2 separate regions of the Homo sapiens genome follow, and region 1 is linked to region 2. Evidence: fine-mapped expression QTL. Tissue or cell type: whole blood. Region 2 holds a variant in brackets; the other region holds the start of a gene. All regions are shown on one strand. Distances are between the middles of the regions.

The links. PIP is the estimated chance that this variant, and not a neighbour inherited with it, causes the effect.
Region 1: NADK2 starts here. The variant in region 2 is fine-mapped to the expression of NADK2 in whole blood (INTERVAL, PIP 0.96).

What each region holds. Positions count from the first base shown.
Region 1 is chr5:36,238,028-36,245,641 of GRCh38, forward strand. It overlaps NADK2 (NAD kinase 2, mitochondrial), which reads right to left and starts at 3,898. Exons shown (of 12, transcript NM_001085411.3): 1 at 3,472-3,898. The coding sequence starts at 3,771. LOC124900962 (a long non-coding RNA gene) reads left to right here and starts at 3,875. Exons shown (of 3, transcript XR_007058733.1): 1 at 3,875-4,001. RefSeq lists enhancers at 2,803-2,872, 4,223-4,422 and a silencer at 2,963-3,982.
Region 2 is chr5:36,187,494-36,195,107 of GRCh38, forward strand. NADK2 (NAD kinase 2, mitochondrial) reads right to left here. Exons shown (of 12, transcript NM_001085411.3): 12 at 5,096-7,614. It also overlaps a transcript of SKP2 not described here. Among named protein-coding and RNA genes, the nearest start is that of NADK2-AS1, 30 kb to the right of the region's middle. The variant CAAA/C (reference allele first, on the strand shown) is at 3,190.

The DNA of each region.
Region 1 (7,614 bases), 51 kb after region 2:
TGTGTCTAGAAGATTTGAGAGGAGCAAGGATTCAGTTAGAAAGCTCTGGCAGTACTCCAAATCATGCTCTTTAATTTGATTAACAATCATATTGTATGTAATATACTTATTGCATACAATGTAGCAAAAGTATACCACCTGACAAAAGTATACCATGGTACGCTTATTGCATACCCTGTGGCAAAAGTATTATCTGCCCAAGTGCTACAACCTAAGCCACAAAATCTTCAGAAAACAAAAGGGAAATCCAAGGTGCTACACCTTCCAAGTCATCTAGTTTAATCCAATAACACGGCAGACTGTTAAATGAAATTATTCTATCCCATTATGAATTTTAAAAAACAAAACTAAAAATAGGAACCAGTAAAAGGGTTGCCGAGTTGTGAGACCTGGAATGATGGAGAGGAGGGCAGAAACTGCTGACTTCTTATTTGTTCTACATTAAAATTTTTTTTCCTTATTCAGTTCCCCATCCCTGGTGACAGGTGAAAAAGAGCTTTAAATAAAACCTTTTTTTGACCAATGAGGTATGTTTCTGGTGTCAAAATCCTTTCCAAGTCAGTTTTGTTTCATCTAGAGTTCTAATTTGTGTCAAGGACCCTGTTAATAGCAATTGCACATTTGCCAACAGCTACATCTCTTAATGATGCAAGTAAATTGTAATAATAGTTTTACTGGCCTTTGAAAGGTCATGAGACAGTAGAGGTAAAATGTTTGACCAGAAATCTGATATCACAAAATAAGTCACTGGTCAATCAATGGGGAAAAAGACAAGATTTTAAAATAAAGCAATGTAACCAATATGAAACGGTAAATAAAAGTCAAAACTTTGACTAGCTTGAAGGTTGTAAACCTATTCTGTGCATGCCTTATCAACTAAAAAATATTTCCTGTAATTGTTTACATTTCTACAAAGTTAGAAAATCATCAGCCTTCAGGGTATAAAATTATACTGGCACTCTATCCTTCATCTTCCATTTGCATTTTAACAAATAGCCTAAAACAGACCTGTTTTACATCAAAAAACCACCACCACGACAACAAAAGAGAATGCTTTGACAAAAAACCAAGTTACCATGACACTATAGACACAGCAGCCATGGTGAGACTCAAGCACTTGGCCACTTTCTTTTATATCCATCCAATTCACATGATTCACATAACTTAGTATTTTCTACCCCAGCAATATAACAAATAATACTTATCATCTTATCACTCCTATTACAGAATCCCATTTTAGGACAGCTTCACACAGCCCAGTATTCTTTGGCCTGTTAATAATCTCTCATCTGGTCTACAACTAATGCTATTGCATTCTGAGTATGGGCCTTTATATAAACTATAACACAAATTCAAATCAGTAAGGAACTTATCCAATAAAACTGTAATGACAACACCACCAACAAAAACTATTCCACTGCCTGGCAATTACAAAACTGTGTATTCTACAGCCCACGAGTTTTACTTCAAAGCTGGCTTATCCCAAACAGCATTACCTAGCAATAGACAAATATTTACCTATTAGAGATTTCTCCACTCAGAACGGGTACACTTAGGTAGTTTGACTTTTTAAGACTTATTGATTTTCCCTACATTTTAAAAGTTTTTTTATTAAGTGGTAATCTAGTTCAGAGGTCCAAGAGTTAATCCTAACTGAGATGCCACCCATTTTCTTGAGGCCTTGAAAACGTTATCCACAGTTTCAAAATGCCAGTACTGTAAAGGGCCTTGGAGGCTATCTGGTACTACCTCTGCAATTCACATACTGAATTAGGTGAAGCACTTTGAAAACTGACACTACTATACAAAAAGTATCATTTCCACCTATGAGGCCCAGAGAAGAACACACATAGGAAGTTAACCACACAGAACCAGGGCCTAGAACTGAGCTCTTCACTCTTAATCCCACACTCTGAACATGCCAAGTGAGCTATTTTAAATTGTTGTGGGAAGCTTCGATAAAACTGTATGCACATATTTATGCATACATGGCATTTGACAAATCCTACAAGCTAGACTTTGCAAAATTAGTACAACCCAAAGGGCACACCACTTTCCCCAAATAGTAACACTGTGCTTTCTTAGAACATTACTAGTCCCTATCTCACCTCTAGTTTCACTCCCTAATACAAACTCAACTACTCTAACCTCCTGTTCAAACCCTTTATTCTTTAAATGATGCAAGTGTATTCTATAAACAGTCATTTTCAAACACTTAGGAAAAAGAAAACAAATCTACACATCTAGACTCCCATCAGGTGAATGCAGGAGCCCTCTTCAGTAAACCCAACAAAGAAGCAGGATGTTTAATGTTGACAACAGATTCAGCACTTAAGCAAAGATGATTTACAATTTCATTTTGATGCCTCTACAAAATAACTTCGCTAAGATCACACGATACCAGAAGTTTCCAACAGGTTGTCTAGTCTTGCACAGAATTAAACTAAATCAGTTATGTGCAATTAATTCCAAAACCTTTTGGTGCACAGTGCCAACAATTAAGAGATTTCCAATATATTTTTCTGGACATACTGCTCATGGTAGCACCGGGCACTCTCCTTTTCCTAAAGTTGGTGGATGGTGGTATGGGATCAGAAACTGTTTTTAAAGTTGGTGGGGGGGGATGACAACAGGAAGATTCAAACTCTGGTTTTTCCCTTGGATTTGTATCTTTGCAGATATATTAATAAACATATCAAATATGGTATATTGTGGAGATACTGCTGCACAAGAGTCGCAGGCTTTTTTATTTCACACACTACCCAGTATACCAGCCCCTTGTCCTGACATTTCTCCTTAATAACGTACATATACAAGTCAAATTTTCTCCCTTTTCCTTCTTAGCACCAAAGACCTGTGCTTTTAAAACAAGCTCGTAGTGTCCAACGACCACGTTCCAGCAAGGAAAAGGCTCACGCTGAAGGACTTTCCGGAGTGCCCTAGGCCTCGCAGTCCTGCAGAGTAAAAGGGGGTGTGTCCGCGGTTGTTTCGGCCCTTTTCCCCCGGCAGCCCTCAGCGGCGCCCTGGGCCCCCTTTCTCGCGGCGGCCAGGGGAGCTGTTCGCAGGGCGTCCAGACCTCAGGCCACTGGCTCACTTTCTTGGAGTGGGTCCCAACCAGGGAACGAGGGCGGGGGCGGCGAGGGCACCAACGAATCCTCAAACCCCTCACTCTGAGGCCACTCGGCAGCCCCTCTTCGCCCTCCCCGCGGCGCCCCTGCCTCCTAAGTCCCTGCATGAACCACTGTCCCTCTCTCTCCCCCTCTCCCCGGCCCTGCCTCTCCCTCGCACACACGCCCAAAGGCAAAGGAGGCCCAGGGAGAAGCCAGAGGACCTGGGGGCCGCGAGAGAGGCAGGACCGGCATCTGCGGTGCCCTGGGAAGAGTCGTCCCGAGAGGTCCCCCCGAGGGGGCGCAGCCGCCACCAGAGCCCCGGCCGAGCCCGGGAGCGAAGCGGGGCCGAGCCAGGACCCACCAGCTGCTTCAGGTCCTCCTCCGAGAGCTCCGCGTAACGGTACCGCTGCTGCTCGAACTCGTACCGGGTGGTTTTGGCCACCACCACCACCCGGGAGGGGCGGAAGCCGCCGTCCGCGCGGCTGCCACAGCCCGCCAGCTCGCGCGGCTGCCCCTGCCCCAGGTGCCGCCGGCCGCCACCGTCACCGCCCAGCCGGGGCCGCGCGGCGGGGCCTCCCGCACCCGGTCCCCGCAGCGCCGCCGCCCGGCCGCCCGCCACGCGACAACAGCTGCCCAGCAAGAAGCCTCGGTAGCAAGTCATCGTGGGCCGGGCCGCGGCCGCGGGCTTGGGCTCGGGCCCCTTGCCTCAGCTCCCTACCGCCGGGAGTGCGCGCCGTCCGCGCCGCCCGGGCCTCTAACTTCGCGCCGGACGGGCAGAGGTTAAGTGCCAGGACGTGCGTGGCCCACGCGGCTAGGGGGACGTACCCAGGCGTTGACGAAGGCGGGGAAAGCGTGGCGATTGGGAAACGGGAGACCCCACGCGGGAGAAAGGTGGGCGGGGAAGAAATGGAGGCCCCAGCTAGTGGGTTTTGTTTGTTTGTTTATTCGTTTCACTCACGCCTGCATAATGGCTGCTTCGCCGCCCGGGGGCGACCTCCCCGCACCACACGCTTCCCCGAGGTCGCTCTTCTCCCGCCCCCAGGCTAACTCTATCGGCCAATCAGAGCCCGCGGCGGCTCCGGATCCGAGGGGCCGCGCCATTGGCTGCGGCCTGAGAAAGAGGTAGAATTCTGTTAGGCGATTGCGTCGCCCTGAGGAATCCAGCTGGATCCGGTCTGAGGCGGCGCGGGGCCAGCGGGTGGGGTTTTGAGCGGCTGGCGGGAAGGCAGGTTCCTGGCATATGCTCGCTTGGGTTCTGTTCTGCAGGCCGACCACGTGCCCATTGGTTTATTTGACCAGGGTCGGTGTGATAGCTGGTGTGTCTGGGGCCGGGCTGGGGGCTGAGGAGGCGGACCCGGCTCCTGCTGCACCGTGTGCGTGGCTTGGCACGAAATCCTCTCGGCGTGGGACCCAGTGCCCGCCCCGCTGCCCCCTGCCCCCCCGAAGAGCCCTACCTATAGGACAAAGTCCAAATGAATTAGTTCTTTGAAAGCTTTTAACTGGAAAGGAGTGAGTTAAAGCAATGTTTGATGACTATTGATCTGGCTTTGGAATCTTGGGTAGCTTGGGAGGCAAGAAGAGGAGGAAGGGATGCTGTTGGGATAATGACCCGTGGAGTGATCAGGACCTGGGCTGGGGTGTGACGAGAACAGAAGGAAACGTCCCATTGTAAGGGGAGAACCACATGGCAGTGCACATCCTGCTGTTCAATTCCGCAGCTCCTTAGATCCCCTTCCCCTGGCACTGTGTTTGCTCCTTTGTAGTCCTGGCGCTACGTCGCTTCTGGACTTTGGGCAGGTTACCTCATCTTTCTGGGCCTCAGATTCCTCATCTGTAAAAAGGGGGTTAGGGTGACCCCAAGGTTCTACCAAGTCCAAATCGATTCAGTGAATCTATGACTCTCCTCACGGGCCCACCAGCACCAGCGTTCATTCGTGGGTTCCCGCGGTGTGCCTGCTGTGTGCCAGGTAGTGTATTGGACTGGGAGCATACACAATGAAGCCCGATAGGTGTTTACTTGGTAAAGTTCTACCACTGACCCGTTCTCACCAAGAACTTTCCCTCACAGCAGCTGCTAATAGTGACGTGTAGTGTAACAACCTTAATAACCTGAGCTTCTAGAGGTAACATCTATAACTATCCTCAGACTCCTTTGTAGTCTTACTATTTTAAACTTCATTAGCATTAGGAAGGAAAAAAAAAAGGGAGAAATCACAGATGACGCTTAGGTTTGAGGCCAGGGTGAACAGGGGAATGTTAATTGATCCATTCGATAGAGAAAAAAAAATGCGTAGGGAGAAACTGTTTGGGATCAAAGTCTGAGTTTTGTTGCTCATATTTGAAATCTCGGACCTCATTTCTTCCCATTTCACAGATAAAAACCCAGATTTTTGACTCTCATTTCAGCTGCAAACATATACATTGACATCTCAGTTGGAATAGCCCTTTGTCCATAGTTATTTTGCGTCTCATCTTCCACCTCCTCAAAAATAGTGTTTCTGAAGGCATCCTCTCACAGGTATCTTGAATTTTCCCTCCCAAATGAGTTTGCCTCTTCAGTATTTAAATATGCTCATGTCTATGACATCTTTAAAATTTTTCTAAAAAAACAAAACAACCTCTAAGCCTTTGTTTTTACATATTGCCTGCCTTACCTTTACAGCTGATTCTCGAAAGAGTAGTCTGTTCATCATTGCCACATCCCTGCCTCCTAGTCATTCCTCAACCTGTTGTACACTAGCTTCTCCCCACTACTTTGCTAATTACTGCTGTTTCCAAGGTGACCAAAAGATCTTGTTGGAACTCAAAAGACTTTTTTCAGTTCTTTAATTGATTGATCTTTCCAAAGAATTTGAAATGGTTATCATTTCTTCTTGAAATCTTTTACTGTCTCCCAACATACCAGTCCCTAACAGTGTTTCTCCCATCTCTATGTCCCTTTTTGACTTCTTCCTAAACCCATCTCCAAGATGTCTTCTGTCCTCGTCTCCTTGTCTCTTCTTCTCCGTCTTTTTTCCTTCTCTCTCTCTCTCTCTGTCACACACACACGCTCCTGAGTTCATTCAGTGTTGTGTAATGGAAGGATCTTGGTTCAAATCTCAGTTTTATTGTTTATTAGCTTTGTGAAACTTGAACTGGTTGTTTAACCTTCCTGAGACTACTTCTGCATTTATAAAATATAATTGCTACCTTGTAAAATTGTGAATATATGCACAGATGCTTAGCACTGTGCCCATTACACAGTAGACACTTGGCAAATATTAGCCCCTTTCATGACCTCAGCTATTACTGGCATCTTTAGCCCAGATCTTTCTCTTGAATTTCCAATCCTTATCTAGTTTCCTTTTAGATAATGTCTCTTAAATCTTACACATGTAACACACATTCGTGGAGATTAAATTAAATTTGAGTGTCACTGTAGGCCAGGCATCCTGCTAGGTGCTACAGATGAAATGATAAAAAGCTTCCATGCCCTTGAGGAGCCTAAAGTCTATGCAGTGATAGAGTTATACACAGAATGCTGAGAAATTTGGAGGAGCAAGTCTCAAGTCAACCTAACAAGAGTTAGAGAAGGCTTTTTGGGAATGTGAAGAGCTAAGCCTTAAGTAATGAATTCAATATTAGCCATTATCAGCAAGAATGAGAAGGAAATTCCACAGAAGAAACACCATGAACAAATGCATAGAAGCAATGAACTAGCAATTTTGAAATTTTAGAGAATTTAGAGAGAGGCAGGCAACATGGGGAAGTGAGGCTAGAGAGGTAGACAAGGGTAAAGACAATGGAAAATGTTAAATCCATGCTTAGGAACCTGCCTTTTATCCTGCATATATTAGGAGGCAACCAAAAGGAGAAAATGACATGATTAGCTTTGCAAAAATTGTGAATTTTTTTTTTTTTGAGATGGAGTTTCGCTCTGTCGTCCATACTGGAGTGCAGTGGTGCAATCTCAGCTCACTGCAACCTCCGCCTCCCGAGTTCAAGGGATTCTCCTGCCTCAGCCTCCAGAGTAGCTGGGACTACAGGTGCGTGCCACCAGGCCTGGCTAATTTTTTGTATTTTTAGTAGAGACAGGGTTTCACCATCTTAGCCAGAATGGTCTCGATCTCCTGACCTCATGATCCACCCACCTCGGCCTCTCAAAGTGCTGGGATTACAGGTGTGAGCCACTGTGCCCAGGCGTGAGCAGGAATTTTTTAGAAGAAACACAAACAGTGAATAAATACTTGAAAAGATAACCTTATTGGAAATTAGAGAAATACAAATAATGTCATTGTGAAATAATATTTTATATCCACTAGATTGGTAGAAATTAAGAAATCTTGGTAACACTCTGTTAGAAAACTTATCCATATCAAGTCTTGATTAGGCTAAACATTAGCTAATCATTTCAATAATTCTTCCTTCCAGTGCCATAGTTTACAAATATCTTTTTTTTTTTTTTTTCCTGAGACAGGGTCTTACTCTATCCCCTAGGCTGGAGTGCAGTGGCACTGCACCGCAT
Region 2 (7,614 bases):
CAGTAGTCATTCAGGAGCAGGTTGTTCAATTTCCATGTAGTTGAGCAGTTTTGAGTGAGTTTCTTAATCCTGAGTTCTAGTTTGATCACACTGTGGTCTGAGAGACAGTTTGTTATAATTTCTGTTCTTTTACATTTGCTGAGGAGTGCTTTACTTCTAACTATGTGGTCAATTTTTGGGATAAGTGCTATGTGGTGCTGAGAAGAATGTATATTCTGTTGATTTGGGGTGGAGAGTTCTGTAGATGTCTATTAGGTCCAGTTGGTGGAGAGCTGAGTTCAATTCCCGGATATCCTTTTTAACTTTCTGTCTTGTTGATCTGTCTAATGTTGACAGTGGGGTGTTAAAGTCTCCCATTATTATTGTGTGGGAGTCTAAGTCTCTTTGTAGGTCTCTAAGGACTTGCTTTATGAATCTGGGTGCTCCTGTATTGGGTGCATATATATTTAGGATAGTTAGCTCTTCTTGTTGAATTGATCCCTTTACCATTATGTAATGGCCTTGTCTCTTTTGATCTTTGTTGGTTTAAAGTCTGTTTTATCAGAGACTAGGATTGCAACCCCTGCCTTTTTTTGTTTTCCATTTGCTTGGTAGTTCTTCCTGCATCCCTTTATTTTGAGCTTATGTGTATCTCTGCACGTGAGATGGGTCTCCTGAATAGAGCACACTGATGGGTCTTGACTCTATCCAATTTGCCAGTCCGTGTCTGTTAATTGGAGCATTTAGTCAATTTACCTGTAAGGTTAATATTGTTATTTGTGAATTTGATCCTGTCATTATGATGTTAGCTGGTTATTTTGCTCGTTAGTTGATGCAGTTTCTTTCTAGCATTAACGGTCTTTACAATTTGGCATGTTTTTGCAGTGGCTGGTACCGGTTGTTCCTTTCCATGTTTAGTGCTTCCTTTAGGAGCTCTTGCAGGGCAGGCCTGGTGGCGAGAAAATCTCTCAGCATTTGCTTGTCTGTAAAGGATTTTATTTTTCCTTCACTTATGAAGCTTAGTTTGGCTGGATATGAAATTCTGGGTTGAAAATTCTTTTCTTTAAGAATGTTGAATATTGGCCCCCACTCTCTTCTGGCTTGTAGAGTTTCTGCCGAGAAATCCACTGTTAGTCTGATGGGCTTCCCTTTATGGGTAACCCGACCTTTCTCTCTGGCTGCCCTTAACATTTTTTCCTTCATTTCAACCTTGGTGAATCTGACAATTATGTGCCTTCGGGTTGCTCTTCTCGAGGAGTTTCTTTGTGGTGTTCTCTGTATTTCCTGAATTTGAATGTTGGCCTGCCTTTGTAAGTTGGGGACATTCTCCTGGATAATATCCTGCAGAGTGTTTTCCAACTTGGTTCCATTCTCCCCGTCACTTTCAGGTACCCCAATCATACATAGATTTGGTCTTTTCACATAGTCCCATATTTCTTGGAGGCTTTGTTCGTTTCTTTTTACTCTTTTTTCTCTAAACTTCTCACTTCATTTCATTCATTTTATCTTCAATCACTGATACCCTTTCTTCCACTTGATCAAATTGGCTACTGAAGCTTGTTCATGCATCATGCAGTTCTTGTGCCATGGTTTTCAGCTCCATCAGGTTATTTAAGGACTTCTCTACACTGGTTATTCTAGTTAGCCATTCGTCTAATCTTTTTTCAAAGTTTTTAGCTTCTTTGCCATGGGTTCAAACTTCCTCCTTTAGCTCGGAGAAGTTTGATCATCTGAAGCCTTCTTCTCTCAACTCGTCAAAGTCTTTCTCCATCCAGCTTTGTCCATTGCTGGCGAGGAGCTTTGTTCCTTTGGAGGGGGAGAGGTGCTCTGATTTTTAGAATTTTCAGCTTTTCTGCTCTGTTTTTTCCCTATCTTTGTGGTTTTATCTACCTTTGATCTTTGATGATGGTGACGTACAGATGGGTTTTTGGTGTGGATGTCCTTTCTGTTAGTGTTCCTTCTAACAGTCAGGACCCTCAGCTGCACGTCTGTTGGAGTTTGCTGGAGGTCCACTCCAGACGCTGTTTGCCTGGGTATCAGCAGCGGAGGCTGCAGAACAGCGAATATTGCTGAACAGCAAATGTTGCTGACTGACCGTTCCTCTGGAAGTTTCATCTCAGAGGGGTTCCTGGCCGTGTGAGGTGTCAGTCTGCCCCTACTGGGATGTGCCTCCCAGTTAGGCTGCTCGGGGGTCAGGGACCCACTTGAGAAGGCATTCTGTCCATTCTCAGATCTCAAACTCTGTGCTGGGAGAACCACTACTCTCTTCAAAGCTGTCAGACAGGGACATTTAAGTCTGCAGAGGTTTCTGCTGCCTTTTGTTTGGCTATGCCCTGCCCCCAGAGGTGGAGTCTACAGAGGCAGGCATGCCTCCTTGAGCTGCAGTGGGCTCCACCCAGTTCGAGCTTCCTGGCTGCTTTGTTTACCTACCCAAGCCTCAGCAATGGCAGGCACCCCTCCCCTAGCCTCGCTGCTGCCTTGCAGTTCGATCTCAGACTGCTGTGCTAGCAGTGAGCGAGGCTCCATGGGCATGGGACCCTCTGAGCCAGGCGCGGGATATAATCTCCTGGTGTGCCGTTTGTTAAGACCATTGGAAAAGCACAGTATTAGGGTGGGAGTGACCCGATTTTCCAGGTGCCATCTCTCACAGCTTCCCTTGGCTAGGAAAGGGAATTCCCTGACCCCTTTCACTTCCCAGGTGAGGCGATGCCTCACCCTGCTTCAGCTCATGCTCGGTGTGCTGCACCCACTGTCCTGCACCCACTGTCCGACACCCCCAGTGAGACGAACCCGGTACCCCAGTTGGAAATGCAGAAATCACCCGTATTCTGCGTCGCTCACACTGGGAGCTGTAGACTGGAGCTGTTCCTATTCGGCCATCTTGGAACCACCTCACCAGGCTTGTTATCTTTAAAGTGCTTCCAGTAGTAATATATTTACAAAACATTTGAATTCAAGTGACAAAGGAGTATTATCAATAAAAGTCAGCAGCATTTTAAAAATATATTTGATCAGGTTATACTATGTGTTTTATTGTCATTCAGAAACTATTTGAATGTTCACTGTATGCCCAGAGGCCTTCCAGGAATTCTGTTCCTTTTGGACCCTTCCATTCGAATGGTAGAATGGTGATTCTTGAATATCACCCAATTGTGCTGGTCCTATCACCACTATGCCTTTTTTTAAATGATGAAAAACGTCAAACATATG[CAAA/C]AAAAAAAAAAAAAAAAAAAAGAATATGATGGACCCCATCTTCCAGTTTCAACAGTCATTGATTCCTGGCCAATCTCACTGAATCCATGATCTCAACCATTCCCCTCCAATACAGATAATTTTGAAGCAAAACCCAGACCCATAATATCATAACTATTTTGGTATATACCTCTAAAAGTTAGGGATTTTCCTGCGTGAATCCTGAAGCATTGTATATCAAGATGGTGTTGACAATTCCTCAGTTGTCTCGTGTTTTCTTCAATGGGTTTATTTTGCTCAGGATCCAAACATGGTGTACATACTGCATTTGATTTAAATTCTCTAAATCTTAAATTTAGGGTTTCTTCCTTTCTTTCCTTGTAATTTATTTATTGAAGAAACTATGTTATCTGTCCTGTGTTCTACATTCTGGATTTTGCGTCTATCCCTGGAGTAATAGGTTAATCTTTCCCCTATTCCCATAAACTGGTGGTTAGATCTAGCAACAAAAAGCTCTAGACCAGGGGTGATTTTCCCCCACCCAGGAGATACTTGGTAACATCTGAAGACATTTTTGATGGTCACAAGAGAAGTGCTATTGGCATACAGGCAATAGAGGCTAAGGATGCTGCTAACCATCCGAAAACAGGAAAGCCCCCTACAACAAAGAATTGTCTGGACAAAATGTCAATAGTGTCAGTGCTCCAGAGGCTTGTATCATCAAGTTCTTTTTTTTTTTTTTTTTAGCCAGGAGACACTTGATAAGTAATATCCTGTTCTTCTATTCAGATACATACCTGTCTGTTTCATTTTCACTGCTGTCACTTTACCTGCTCTTGGGCTCTTGATTCCTAATAGACCCTATCCACAAGCTCCAGAGACATGAGGGACACTGGCCAAGTGCAAAACTTTATTTCTGGATAAAGCGCTTGTGTCCTATCCTGGTGAACCCAATTACACTTCAACATTTATTGACCATCCACAATGTGCAGGATACAACAGCCCAGGAGAAGATGCAGAGCCTATGAGGAAACAAAGGCAAGTAGTCTAGAGACTGGGCAAACTAGAAAGAAACCTCTTGTCACTGCATACCCTAACCATGGAACAAGCAAGATGACAACCTCCTCTTTCTTTACTATTCCTCCCCACCTAGCCAAATATCCCAGAAAATCAAAGTTTTCTTCACCAAGAGACTAACCCTTCAAGATACAAGTCAAAGCCCTAAAAGCCTATACTAATATTATGGATAACTCAAAACGTAACTGCTTTGAGTTACTATGTTTTAGCAAATCTAAATACTAAAATGCCGGTATTTTTACATTTCTCTAAATACCAGAATATCTAAATTGTAATTTTGAGCATTAAAATCACTATATTTAAGGTATTCAGATTAACACTTAAAATATGCTTTTCTACTTTTAGCTCATGTAGTCAGTGATTTTCTTTAAAAAAAGTCTTAAAGCCCGTAAGACTTAAAAACTCTTCATACCTTAATGTAGAAAACTTAATAAGCCTTCTCACTGACTTATGCCCCAATCCCTTGAGTACTTTTAATGTTAAAGTCAAGAATAAAATGCCTTTGAAAAAATAAAATTGAACTATTCTTTAGTTAGACAACTCATTAGTACATTTACTCTTATCTCCCCCACCATTATATTTAGGTGTTGCATTATCCCTGGGATCTTTTCTGCATAATTGTCTTAGTAGATGCTATTCTTAAGTATAAGGATGCATAAATAATATTGGTACAATGGAATGAATTTAAGTGATTTAAATTCTAAATGTACATTATTTTCACAACTAAGCAAAATATATAACGTATCCTTAAACTTGTATTTGACAACTTTTTCAACTCAAGTGGATATTTTACAATAAAAATGTGTTACCTGGCTCTCTTTCTGCTTATTAAAAAGTGAAATCAATGTAGTAAAACATGTAATATGATTTAATGTACAGGGGCCATGAATGTAAATGCACAAGGAGTATCAAAAATATTAAGTCAAAATTATCTGAAGAGCCTACACTGACCAGGTAAGCACTTCACCCTGATTTAATAACTAATCATTCTATGTCAAATGTTAACAGTGAATGAAGTCAACAGGGCACAGAATAATAATACACAGCAGTGGGGAAACACTTCTGAAACATAACATTTTGTGAAAACTAGTTTTCAAATAATGACCCCTTGAGAGGGAAATAAGAAATGTTAAAAAGAAGAGGTAACAGTGGAGTAATTTTATTCACATAGGGTTGCGATTAAAAGGTTAACTCATTCAAACACATTTTTGCTATGCTAACATTCCTTTGCCTCTTATTCTTACAAATAAACCCCCATCACAGAGCAGAAATGTTAGAAATTATATCACAAATGGAGCACAATAAGTATTTTTAAAACCTTTTAAAATATGGCTTATAATTTTACACAGCAAGTTACCTATTAATATGTTACATATTAACAGATCTATTTGGACAATCAGATTTCCTTGAGATTAAGGATGGAGTTGGCATTTTTCCTTTAAGAAGGCATTTTAAGGCCGGGCATGGTGGCTCATGCCTGTAATCCCAATACTGGGAGGCCGAGGCAGGCAGATCACAAGGTCAGGAGTTCGAGACCAGCCTGACCAACATGGTGAATCCCCATATCTACTAAAAATACAAAAAATTAGCCAGGCATAGTGGTGCCTGCCTGTAATCCCAGCTACTTGGGAGGCTGAGGCAGGAGAATCGCTTGAACCTGGGAGATGGAGGTTGCAGAGCCGAGATCATGCCACTGCAGTCCAGCCTGGGTGACAAAGCAAGACTCCGTTCTCAAAAAAAAAAAAAAAAAAAAAGAAGGTATTTTAAGCCTGTTAGGGGAGGTTCTATAGTATGGAGCTTCTTTATAAAGTGGTATCTTATGTATATCAAAAAAAAAAAGCCAGATCAATCTCTGGGAAAACACTACATTTTAATGTATTTCTATCTGATATGTCATAAATTCTTTGCTATGAATGTCTACGCAGATACTTTAAGAAAAATTGATTCTCTGGATATACATCAAAACCTAGATTAACTTTGTACATTAACATTTATTTTAAAAAATTGATAAGAACAACATGTTAAATATTGGCAAAACTAAGAGCACTCAATTCGACTATCCGTCCAGCTTTCACAGAATTTACTTCTGAGCCCACAAGACTCAAATTGTATAAGGATAGAGTCTGTTTCATTCATCAACATATCCAGCACCTGACATAGTTTTACATGGCACAGAGTGGGTGTTCAATAAATATTTGTCAATGATTGAACAGAAATTTTCAGCACCAAATGAAAGAAACACATGACTTTGAACAACGGCACGAGAATACCAACTGTTTGATTATGCAACGACAGGATCTTTTGGCAAAAATTCTAGGATTACTTATAAGTAGATCAATAATTAGATAATAATTTCCTCCAAAAATAAAGGAATTCTCATGGGGAAAAAAAAAAAGTCCTAACATCTTATCCTAAAAGCTATTCTGTAAATCTTGGAATATAAGCTAGGTGAAAACCACAATACTAAGGAAGGCAATTCCAAAACTACTGTGTTTTACATATTTATTAAAGAATCCATTCTTTCTGATAATACTCCTAACACAGGTGAAGATATTTTTACAATATTTTACCAAACTCCTAATAGAAAATGTCTAATCAGTTCATCCTTTTAGTCCCTGAATCCATGTTTGAGCATTTTAAAGATGGAAGAAACCTGTAAGACTCATATCATTTTAAAAAAATTGACTTAAAACACTTATTGGATAACTAATACATTTGTAACAGCATCATGATTTGTTTTGCTATCTGTATTTCACCCAGAACTGCTGAATTACAGAATGAAACTCAAATGAAAGCATTCATCTATAATTTCAAAAATTATTATTTGAAATTTTTAAATCAATAGTCATAACATCATCGTGTTCCGAAATTAGAAAATTATTAGCACATATACAAACATATTTACCTATGTCAATTAGGTCAATGTCAGGATTTATCAAAATTCTCTGTCTTGAAAATTTTTTCAAAATCTTGGTTTTCAGGTACTATAAAAAATATGCACTAATCAAATGATATGTGTTCAGTTCTGACAATCCCACAATTAGGAGGAAAGGGAAGGAAAACACACTTATACAGTTAAGTTTCAAATCCTAAATATTTAGTCCTTTATTTAAGCCTGCCCCTCTAAATTTAAAAAGGTATCAGCACTCTTGGTTACCAATTGTAAGCAATATAAAAATTTCACTGGTATCAATTCTAATTGGTTCAGTCCATCCATTTTCTTATACAGTGAATGTCTTTTTTTCTATCAGAATCCAACAGAAGAATAATGCAAATCTCACTTCTGAGCCCACGGGCAAGCAGTCTCAACAATAACCAAAAAATGTCACTTTACGACTGGTAGTCTGTTTCTGAAGTAAAAATATT